Linked DNA regions of Homo sapiens: region 2 is linked to region 1. The links come from fine-mapping of genetic effects on gene expression. A gene starts in region 1. The other region holds a variant in brackets. All regions are shown on one strand. Distances are between the middles of the regions.

Region 1 (4,379 bases):
CAGAGCTTGATCCTTGTTTCCCTGCTCAGCTCAGGGCTCATGGCATCCCCTGTGTCCACCAGGAACACCGCCACCTATGCAGGGGGTAGGGAAAGACCCAAGGGGCCAGGCCTGCCTTGTTCTCCCACATTCTTCCCAACCCTGCCCCGTCCCATCCCCATCTTCTATCCTCACCCCAGAGACGCCCTTCTTGATTCCCCTTCCCATCCCTGACCTCCTTCTGCCACTTCCCCCCTCACCTTCTTCCCTTCTTTCCCCAGCAAGAAGGGGTGGCTCCACATCCATATGCCCCTGGCGAGGCCATTGGCGCCCCACCTGCAGCCCTGCAGGGATGCCTCTCCTCCTCTTGGCCGGCCGCCCTCACCAGACTCCTGCAGGGGAGAGAAGGGAGAGCATCAGTTGGTCGGTTCCTTGTCCCCACAGACCGGAATACCAGACCCAGCTTCCCCCAGGCAGGAACCCCCATCCTTGCTCCCCGCCTCCCTCCTGCCCCGCCCCGCCCTCACCAGGCCCGGCAAGCCCTGAAGCAAATGGTTGAGGAGGAAGGACTTCCCTGAGTGCTGCTCCCCCAGGACAGCGAGGAGGCAGACTGGGGTGTCCCTGGCCAGAGGGTGCTTCAGGCAGCGGTTGATGGCCCCCATCCTAAGGATGAGGCCCCCAGAGGCATTGATGCGAACCAGCAGCAGCGGCTCCGCCCTCACAGGACACGTCTCCTGGGCCAGGAGAAGAGAGGGGCCCCTGAGCATCCAGGACCAGCTCCTGACCCTGGAATGTGTTCAGCCTGGAGCTCTGTGTCCTGATGTTCTAGAATAGGGCCAAAGCCACCCCCTCCTCTTGGGTCTGACTGATTAGGCCCAGTCCCCAGACCTGCAGTGCAGGGGGCAGCGGCCGCTGCGGCAGGAGCTTCATCTTCTCGCCCAGGCTCCGGAGGCCCCTCTTCTGCTTGCATATCTTCCGGCACTCAGGACAGCAGGGCGGCTCACAGCCCGGGAGACGGTGTGTGCTGAAGCACCGTATGCAGAAGTCGTGGCCACAGTCCAGCGAGATGGGGTCGCGCAACCTCTCCAGGCAGATGGAGCAGGTAGGGAGCTCCCGGGGCGCCATGGGCTGGGGCCCCAGGCCTAGCTCCAACTTGGGGAAAGGTGTATGGGACCTGTGGGGCAAAACAGGCCATTGAAAAGCAGGATGTCTATTGGGGGCAGGGGGTACCGGCCAGGGTTGTGGTGGAAGACTGATGGCTTGGGAGTGGAGGTCCCTTTGTGCCAACCCAATTTCCATCAGTGCCTCCATGGACAGGCGGAGCTGCTCCCAGAGAGGCCAAGCTCTGCCCGTTCCTCACTGACATGTGTCCTAGGACCTGGGGGCCTCAGAGTGGGGGCAGCAGAGCAATGGTGAGAGAGTCTGAGAGGGAGAAAATCTGAGTGGAATGGACTCCACCACATCCCAGCCATGCAAATGCAAGCAAGTTCCTTCCCCTCTCTGGGCCTCAATTTCCTAACTGTCCCAATGGAGAGGATAGCAATACCCCTCATGGGGCCGTTGGGGTGGCCATCCGAGAGGAGGCGTGTGCAGCTGTCTGCACAGTGCCTGGTGCAAATGCTTGGGAAGAGCCTCTCCCGGCGTTCTACAGCGGGGCTCCCTCCATGAGGTGCTGACTTCAGCCAGGCCCCCAGGGATGATACCCTCCACAACCCCATGCTACAGGGACAGTGAGGAGAAGCCATCAGCCTGTGCTGCAGTTGGGCAGATGGCTCTGGATCTTAGAAGATTCCTTCCGCTCTCTGCTCTGAGCTGGCATCTGCCTCCCTGCAGCACCCACCTGCTTCTTCCTGTCCCTCCCTCCACAGCCTGGCGGATCCAGCCTCAGGCGGACAGCCCTCCCGGCTGGGCTGCCGGGCTCTGTGTTCCAGGACCGGCCATTTCAACTGACCTGCCTGGCCTCACTGCACCCATCCCAGCCTGGAAGGCCCTGCTACTTACCAACTGTTGCCGCTGTTTCCCATGAAGCTCTGTTTTCTCTCCTTGGAGAAAAAAAAAAAAAAAAAAGATTTAGAACATAATCCAGACTTCTATCTTCACCCTGGATTTCCAGGGACCCCTCATCCTCCCCACCCCCGGCCCATCCCCCAGCCCAAGGAGGGCCCTTCCCACCCCACTCTCCTTCCCGATCTTAGGACTGAAGACTTGCCCGTTTGCCAAGCCGATGACAAAAGGAAGTGACTGACAAGGCGGGCCTTGGCATGGGAGGCTGGGATGGGGAGAGGGTCCGGATGCAGAGGGGGAGGCCCCGAGACCTTCAACCAGAGGTAAGGATGCCTTTTCTCCCGGAAAGGCTAGCAGGCTGCGGTAGGTAGAAGGTGAGGTCGGGGGATGGTATCCCCGAGGAGCTGACTCCCGGTCAGAGCTGGAAAAGAAATGTGACAGTCAGGAAAGAGGAGGCTGCTGCTGGACTCACCCCAGGGGGAGGAGACACGGCTGCGGGTAGCAGGGCTCCGAGGAGGGAGGGATGGAGCCCGGCTCAGAATCCCTGGCAGAGGCTGGGATGCAGGCAAGCCGAGGTGGTGAGTCGCCATGGAGACAGAAGGGAAAGATAAGGACAGGGAGGGGGAGGGGGACAGAGAGGGAGAAGGCGTGCGGTGCACCCGCAAACATGGAGGCGCCTCCGGCAGAACCATGGGCCAGCACTGCCTCTACTGGGCCAGCTGAGGTCTCCCCAGGGCCACAGGACAGGGTGGGCAAAGAGAAGAGGTGTGAGAAACAGGAGAGGGTAAGACCAGAGCTGACCCAGAGACAAGGAGTTATTCATCCATTCATCCAATGAACAGTTACTGAGTACCTACTATGTACAGAGCCCCCAAATGCAGACCCTACTTCACATGGCCCTGCACATCCTCCTGCTCTCTCTCAGGTTTATGTCATCGACGCCCAACCCAGCTGCAGCCTTCTTCAGCACTCATGGGCCCTCCGTGTCCTCTGGTGTATTTCCCTCCCAATAGCTTTCACTCTGCCTCAAACTTGAGCAGGATGAAATCTATCAAAACTATGAGCCACCTCTGGACCTTCTAATGGCCTCTTGACTGGGCTCCTTGCCTCCCTTCCACTCCCCAGTGCACAGCCAGCATAGGCTCCCCAAGCACAGATGACCTCACACTGCGCAAACACCTTTTGTGTCTCCCTACTACCATCAGATCAAAATCCAAACTCTCCGGCCTGCGGACTGGGCTGAACCTTCCTTCCACCCTTCTCTCGCCCCACTCTTCCCTGCCTCTGCACCCTGGCTTGGCTGCTCTGCTCCTTCTCATCCCTCCTGGGACACCCTCTTAGGCCCAGTGCAGGTGCTGTGGCCTCCCTAGAGCCTCCTTTCCTCACCCCTCCCAACTGGGTGCGGTCTTGTTCTTGGACAGTTGAGGGCTGGGATATGTGATAGGCTTGGCGCAGCCCAGGCTTCAGAGCCAGGCAGATCTGGGCTTGATTCTCGGCTCAGGGGCTCTGGGACTCCACTGCACCTCTCTGTGCTCTGAGGAGCCACCATTACCTATGTAAAGCCACTAGTCCAGGCACGGGAGTCATTCGTACATCCTATGAGCTAGGATGCAGAAGGGTTGGGGTGAGGTGGGATTCAGAACCTAGAAAAGTTCAGCAGAGACCACCTTCAGCAGGTGGAGACACCCCTGAAGCTGGGGCTGGATCTTGTTCATTTTGGTGTCTGGAGGGCCTGAGATTGTGGGGCTGAATCAATCAGATTCAGAGAAGCAGTGCCATAGACTCTGCCTCCTCCTGCCCCAGGTGGGACAAGCCCCTGTGTGTTGGCAGCAAAGCCTCACACTCAGGGGATGAGGAAGCAAGCCTGAGCCGTGCCACAGCTCTGCCTTCAGGGCAGAAGGGAGGGTTTTCTCAACCCCTGTAGCCTTTCATCCTTGCAGGAGAGAAAGCGTGGGCGCTGGACTCAGATTCAAGCTCTAAACCTGCCTCCATCCCAGCATGAAATGCTGGTGAGTCACTGCCCTCTCTGAGCTTCCATTTGCTCATCACCAGGCAAAGATGTGAGGAAGCAGATGGGACAATCAGTCTTCACTTAATGATACTTACTGAGCACCAGGTACTGTGTCTCACACTGCAGTACAGCTGGAAACAAGAGAGACAAAGCTCCATCCTCCCCAAGATCCCAACTGGACAATTAAAAGGCATTGCTATGATCTGGGTGAGAACCTGGATGCGGGGAGGGTGAGGAGGGGTGTCAGGCTGTCCTGATAAGCAAGGAGGTAGAAAAAGGTTGTCAAGGCAGGGCAAACCACAGGTACAGGGCCCAGAGGAGAGGGGACACAGAACCCATTCTGGGGAACAAAGGAGGTCCGGCTGGCCTGGCAGGAATATTTGAT
Region 2 (4,379 bases), 100 kb after region 1:
CACCCCGCCTGAGGCGTTCTTCCTGTAGAGGGACAATGCAAACTGGTAATTGTAATAACATCACTGTACAGAACAAAGCCACACTGGCCAGAAACAGGAAATGCACATTGTATGATGCAGTATTTCAAAGGAAGATTTCAAAACTACTTGTAAAACACAATTACTTTCAAATCCCAAATGTGTGTGTACCCAGAAGGCCCCTCCCTCATGGCGACTCCTGTGACTTGGACCCCTGTGGGGTCACACCAGGGAGACTATGGCTCAGGTACCACCAAACTGGGGAAAGGGAATGCTTAATCTAAAATATTTTTTTCTCAAAATGAAACTGGCTTTATAAATTCTACTTATAGAAGCAATGTGTGTCCTTATAAAACACAAATCTGACAACCCAAAAAGGAATTAGAAAGAAGATAAAAATCACGTATCATTCCACCTCCACTGTGTATGCTTCCGGAAAATGGCTGCATATTTCTATGATTCCTAACAGAAATGATTCACTATCTTTATTTAAGGCAAAGTCACCATATGCAAAAGACAGGGTTGTCCTAAGCTTTTATATAATATAATAATTAAATATAAATAATATATTCCTTGTATTTTTTCTTTTCTTGTTTTTAAGAGATAGGGTCTCATGGTATTACCCAGGCTGCTACACAGTAGCTATTCACAGGGACAATGCCACTACTGATCAGCACGGGAGTTTGAACTTGCTCCCTTATATTTTATTATAAATATTAACTAAAATGGGCTCAAACCGTCCGTCTGTCCCTATGTTTCTCAGTGGATGCTACCACGCACCTTCTTCCTGGGCTGCTGGCCATGAAGCCACATGCATCCACCTGGGCAGTTACTGGTGGCCTGTTTCCCACTGCAGGGACAGAGAGGCCACAACTGAGATTGCCCACTGTCACTGAGCTTTAGAATGTTGCCAGTTATAGACACACAAACAATGCCGGGATGAACTTGTCAGTACTCAAATCTAACTATCCCCAGTATTCCTCTCTGAACACCAACTTCTAATAGAGGAGAGGAATCCCTGTGCTGCCCCTGGTCCCATCTACCTTTTTTAACCAAAGGTCATTGGAGACAGCCCTGATAACTGCAACCAAAGGCTTGACAATTTGTAAGGCCACTCTAATTGCTCCTTTCCCTTCTCGCTGTTGTAAAGTAATGCATGCTTACTAAAGAAAAATGGGGGCCAGGCACGGTGGCCCAAGACTGTACTCTCAGCACTTTGGGAGGCCGAGGTGGGCAGATCACTTGAGGTCAGAAGTTTGAGACCAGCCCGACCAACATGGTGAAACCCTGTCTCTACTAAAAATACAAAAATTAGCCGGGCATGGTGGCACGCGCCTGAAATCCCAGCTACTCGGGACGCTGAGGCACGAGAATCACTTGAACCCAGGACGCGGAGGTCTCAGGGAGCCAAGATTGCACCACTGCACTCCAGCCTGGGTGACAGAGTGAGACTCTGATTCAAAAAAAAAAAAAAAAAAAAAAAAGAAAGAAGGAGAAAGAGAGAAAGAAAAGAAAAGAGAAAAGAAAAGAAAAATGGGAACTGAAAAAAACTAAAACTATACATACTTCCATCATCAAAACACAAGCACTCTCATTTCGGGAGCATTTTTTCCCAGCCTTTGTTTTTTGCAAATCTCTTGCTACAGGTCAAAGTGCTTGGCGGGGGCTGGGCTGGCTCCTGCCCCTCAGGCCTGCATCCCTGCGCCCACCCTGCATGCCACCCTTCAAAGAGCCTGTGCAGGCTCAGCTCACTCAGGGAAAGCCCAGACACGTGTCTGCACAAGTGTTTCTGGGAAGCATTTTTAACTGGTTTCTTTCCTTGGCAATGACTTCCTAGAAAATCTTTCCTAAATGTAACTTTGCATGGGATCCCTCCCTGACTGGGAGGGACACTGGGTGACAAGAATACACACTTACGGCAGCATGAAATGCCATCTCAGCAAGCATATCTGAAATGTTTTGAAGACAGGGCTGTGTCTGCCATCTTCTTCCCAGTGAGCCACACTCCACCCTGAGCATGGGCAGTCAATGCA[G/C]TGCAGACCTGCCTGGGGCACTGACCTGCTCAGCCACTTCTCTGCTCATGGCAAGTGCCAGCTGCAGCTGAAGCTCCTCTTCTCCACTAGTCTGGGGCCGGGCTTGCTCCAGCTCGGAGGACACTCGCGGGGAGGTGGCTGTTGGGGAAGACCAAGTCATCATATGCAAAAGACAAGGCTGATACAGCTCCTGCACAGCAGTTTCCTGGGCAGACCACATTCCATTCCCATCTCAAACCCGCAAGGTCCAGCAGTAGCCCAACAATGCAGGCAGAGGAAAGGAAAGGCTTACAAATATTTGAATGTTAAAATCAAGTGACAGTCAAACGTAGCTTTCCCAACTACAGAAGTCCCCTGGTACCAACCAAGAGAAGATGCCTTTGGGTATGCAAGCCCCAGCCATCAGGCCTCACAAGGATCAGAACCTCAGTCTTCACGGCAGATCTGCAGTGCTCCAAAAAAGGAACTAACTCAAAGACCCAAAGTATAGCTCTTGAACAGATGAACCAAAGAGCATCCTTCAAACAGGTGGAGGGCATCTGGAGACCAAAGACTCCACTCCAGGCACACCAACATTCAAGAGCTGACTTTTGAGGCCAGGCGCGGTGGCTCACGCCTATAATCCTCACACTTTGGGAGGCCGAGGCGGGCGGATCACAAGGTCAAGAGATCGAGACCATCCTGGCCAACATGGTGAAACGCCATCTCTACTAAAAATACAAAAATTAGCTGGGCATGGTGGCGTGTGCCTATAATCCCAGCTAGCAGGAGAATCACTTAGAGACCCGGGATATGGAGGTTGCAGTGAGCCAAGATCTCGCCACTGCACTCCAGCCTAGTGACAGAGCGAGACTCCGTCTCAAAAAAAAAAAAAAAAAAAGAGTTGACCTTTGTCTCTCGTAGTGTTACTACGAGATCATGGAAAATGAAGCCCGCCCATTTCTGCAGTGACCCCAAACATTTTCGTTCTGTAAGCAGCTTTGTACACTGATTAGAAAGAAATGCAGATAAAAATGCAGACACTTTTGCTGTGCACTTAGCTAGTTTAAATACTTCTAAGCAGCTCCTGGAAAGACAGTTTTTATTGAATGAATGAGATGTGAACTCCTAGCTGATGTAACAAACCCCACGGGAGTCTTAACATTCACAACATAAACCATGGTGCTGGGTGCTGGGGCTTACACAGCCATCAGGATGTTTCACGATCAGGGAATCTAAATGCTTTTAGAAATTATTGTAGTTTTAGAAGTATGTGCCCACCTCTGCCCCCGTTTCAGGAAGGGTCCATAGCTTCTCTAAAACTCTCAGAACAAGACCTGCCCTCTGAGAGATTTGGAGCTACTGCTTTAGATGGTTCCTTGCCCTGTCCTCCTCCCGGGTCTCCGTGCAGGCTGTTCCCTCAGCGCACCCACCTCCTCTTTTGTAGTCAGAGCTCGGCTTCCCGGACCTGGTCCTTCCCCTCCATCCTGATGCTGTGTCAGACTCTGCACCTCTGCACCTCTCCCTTGTAGCACTCACCCCTGGCTGACAAACACCTGTTGGGTGGAGGCTTACATGCATGCACAGACAGGTGCATGCACAGGTCGACAGATGGACAACTACAGAATTCAATTTCATGGTTAACGGGTCATTTTAAAATGTTCTAATTGTGCCGGGCATGGCGGCTTATGCCTGTAATCCTAGCACTTTGGGAGGCTGAGACGGGCGGATCACCTGAGGCCAGGAGTTCTAGACAAGCCTGGCCAAAATGGTAAAACCCGGTCTCTACTAAAAACACAAAAATTAGCTGGGTGTGGTGGCGGGCGCCAGTAATCCCAACTACTTGGGAGGCTGAGGCAGGAGAATTGCTTGAACACAGAAGGCAGAGGTTGCAGTGAGCCAAGATCAAGCTACTGCACTCCAGCCTGGGCAAAAGAGCAAGACTGCATCTCAAAAAATAAATAAATGTTCTAATTGTGTATTAGTTTACTTCCTTCTTTCATTACATCTATTTTAGGAAACCTAACTAGCAGGATTCATTCACCTAGGTGTTGCTTCTGCCTTACTTTCCAATCTAAATTTGCTTCTTAGGGTTTTCCTCTTTGAGAGAAACTAAAAGGTTAGGAATAATTCCTGACAAAGGAGGCTTTCAGATAGCTGGGCCATGGCTATGGTGAATAAAACAGGGGAAGAGGCCTAAATGCAATTCAGGCCACAGACGGGATCCACAGAAGAACCAGGGGAGGTAGAAAGAGGCTGCTTCTGGGCAGAGGGCTGAGGTGGGGCCGGGCAGGAGACTGGGAACTTCTCTACCATGTGAGGTTGCCAAGCAGAGGCATCACCCTGTCA

Which allele goes with the higher level. Positions count from the first base shown, and alleles are read on the strand shown. Sizes are in standard deviations (SD) of each study's normalised expression.
With allele G in place of C in region 2, the expression in whole blood of the gene that starts at base 2,419 in region 1 is higher (moderate effect, 0.51 SD a copy in GTEx).

What was found. PIP is the estimated chance that this variant, and not a neighbour inherited with it, causes the effect. A credible set is the group of variants that fine-mapping cannot tell apart.
Region 2: its variant is the best candidate, but not a certain one, in a credible set for the expression of RNF112 in whole blood (GTEx, PIP 0.61).

The regions. Positions count from the first base shown.
Region 1 is chr17:19,409,272-19,413,650 of GRCh38, reverse strand. It overlaps RNF112 (ring finger protein 112), which reads right to left and starts at 2,419. Exons shown (of 14, transcript NM_007148.5): 1 at 2,189-2,419; 2 at 1,981-2,021; 3 at 868-1,153; 4 at 507-713; 5 at 240-371; 6 at 1-74. The coding sequence starts at 2,242.
Region 2 is chr17:19,307,695-19,312,073 of GRCh38, reverse strand. EPN2 (epsin 2) reads right to left here. Exons shown (of 11, transcript NM_014964.5): 5 at 2,077-2,189; 6 at 1-22. Among named protein-coding and RNA genes, the nearest start is that of EPN2-AS1, 3.6 kb to the right of the region's middle. RefSeq lists enhancers at 1,320-2,235, 2,236-3,152. The variant G/C (reference allele first, on the strand shown) is at 2,052.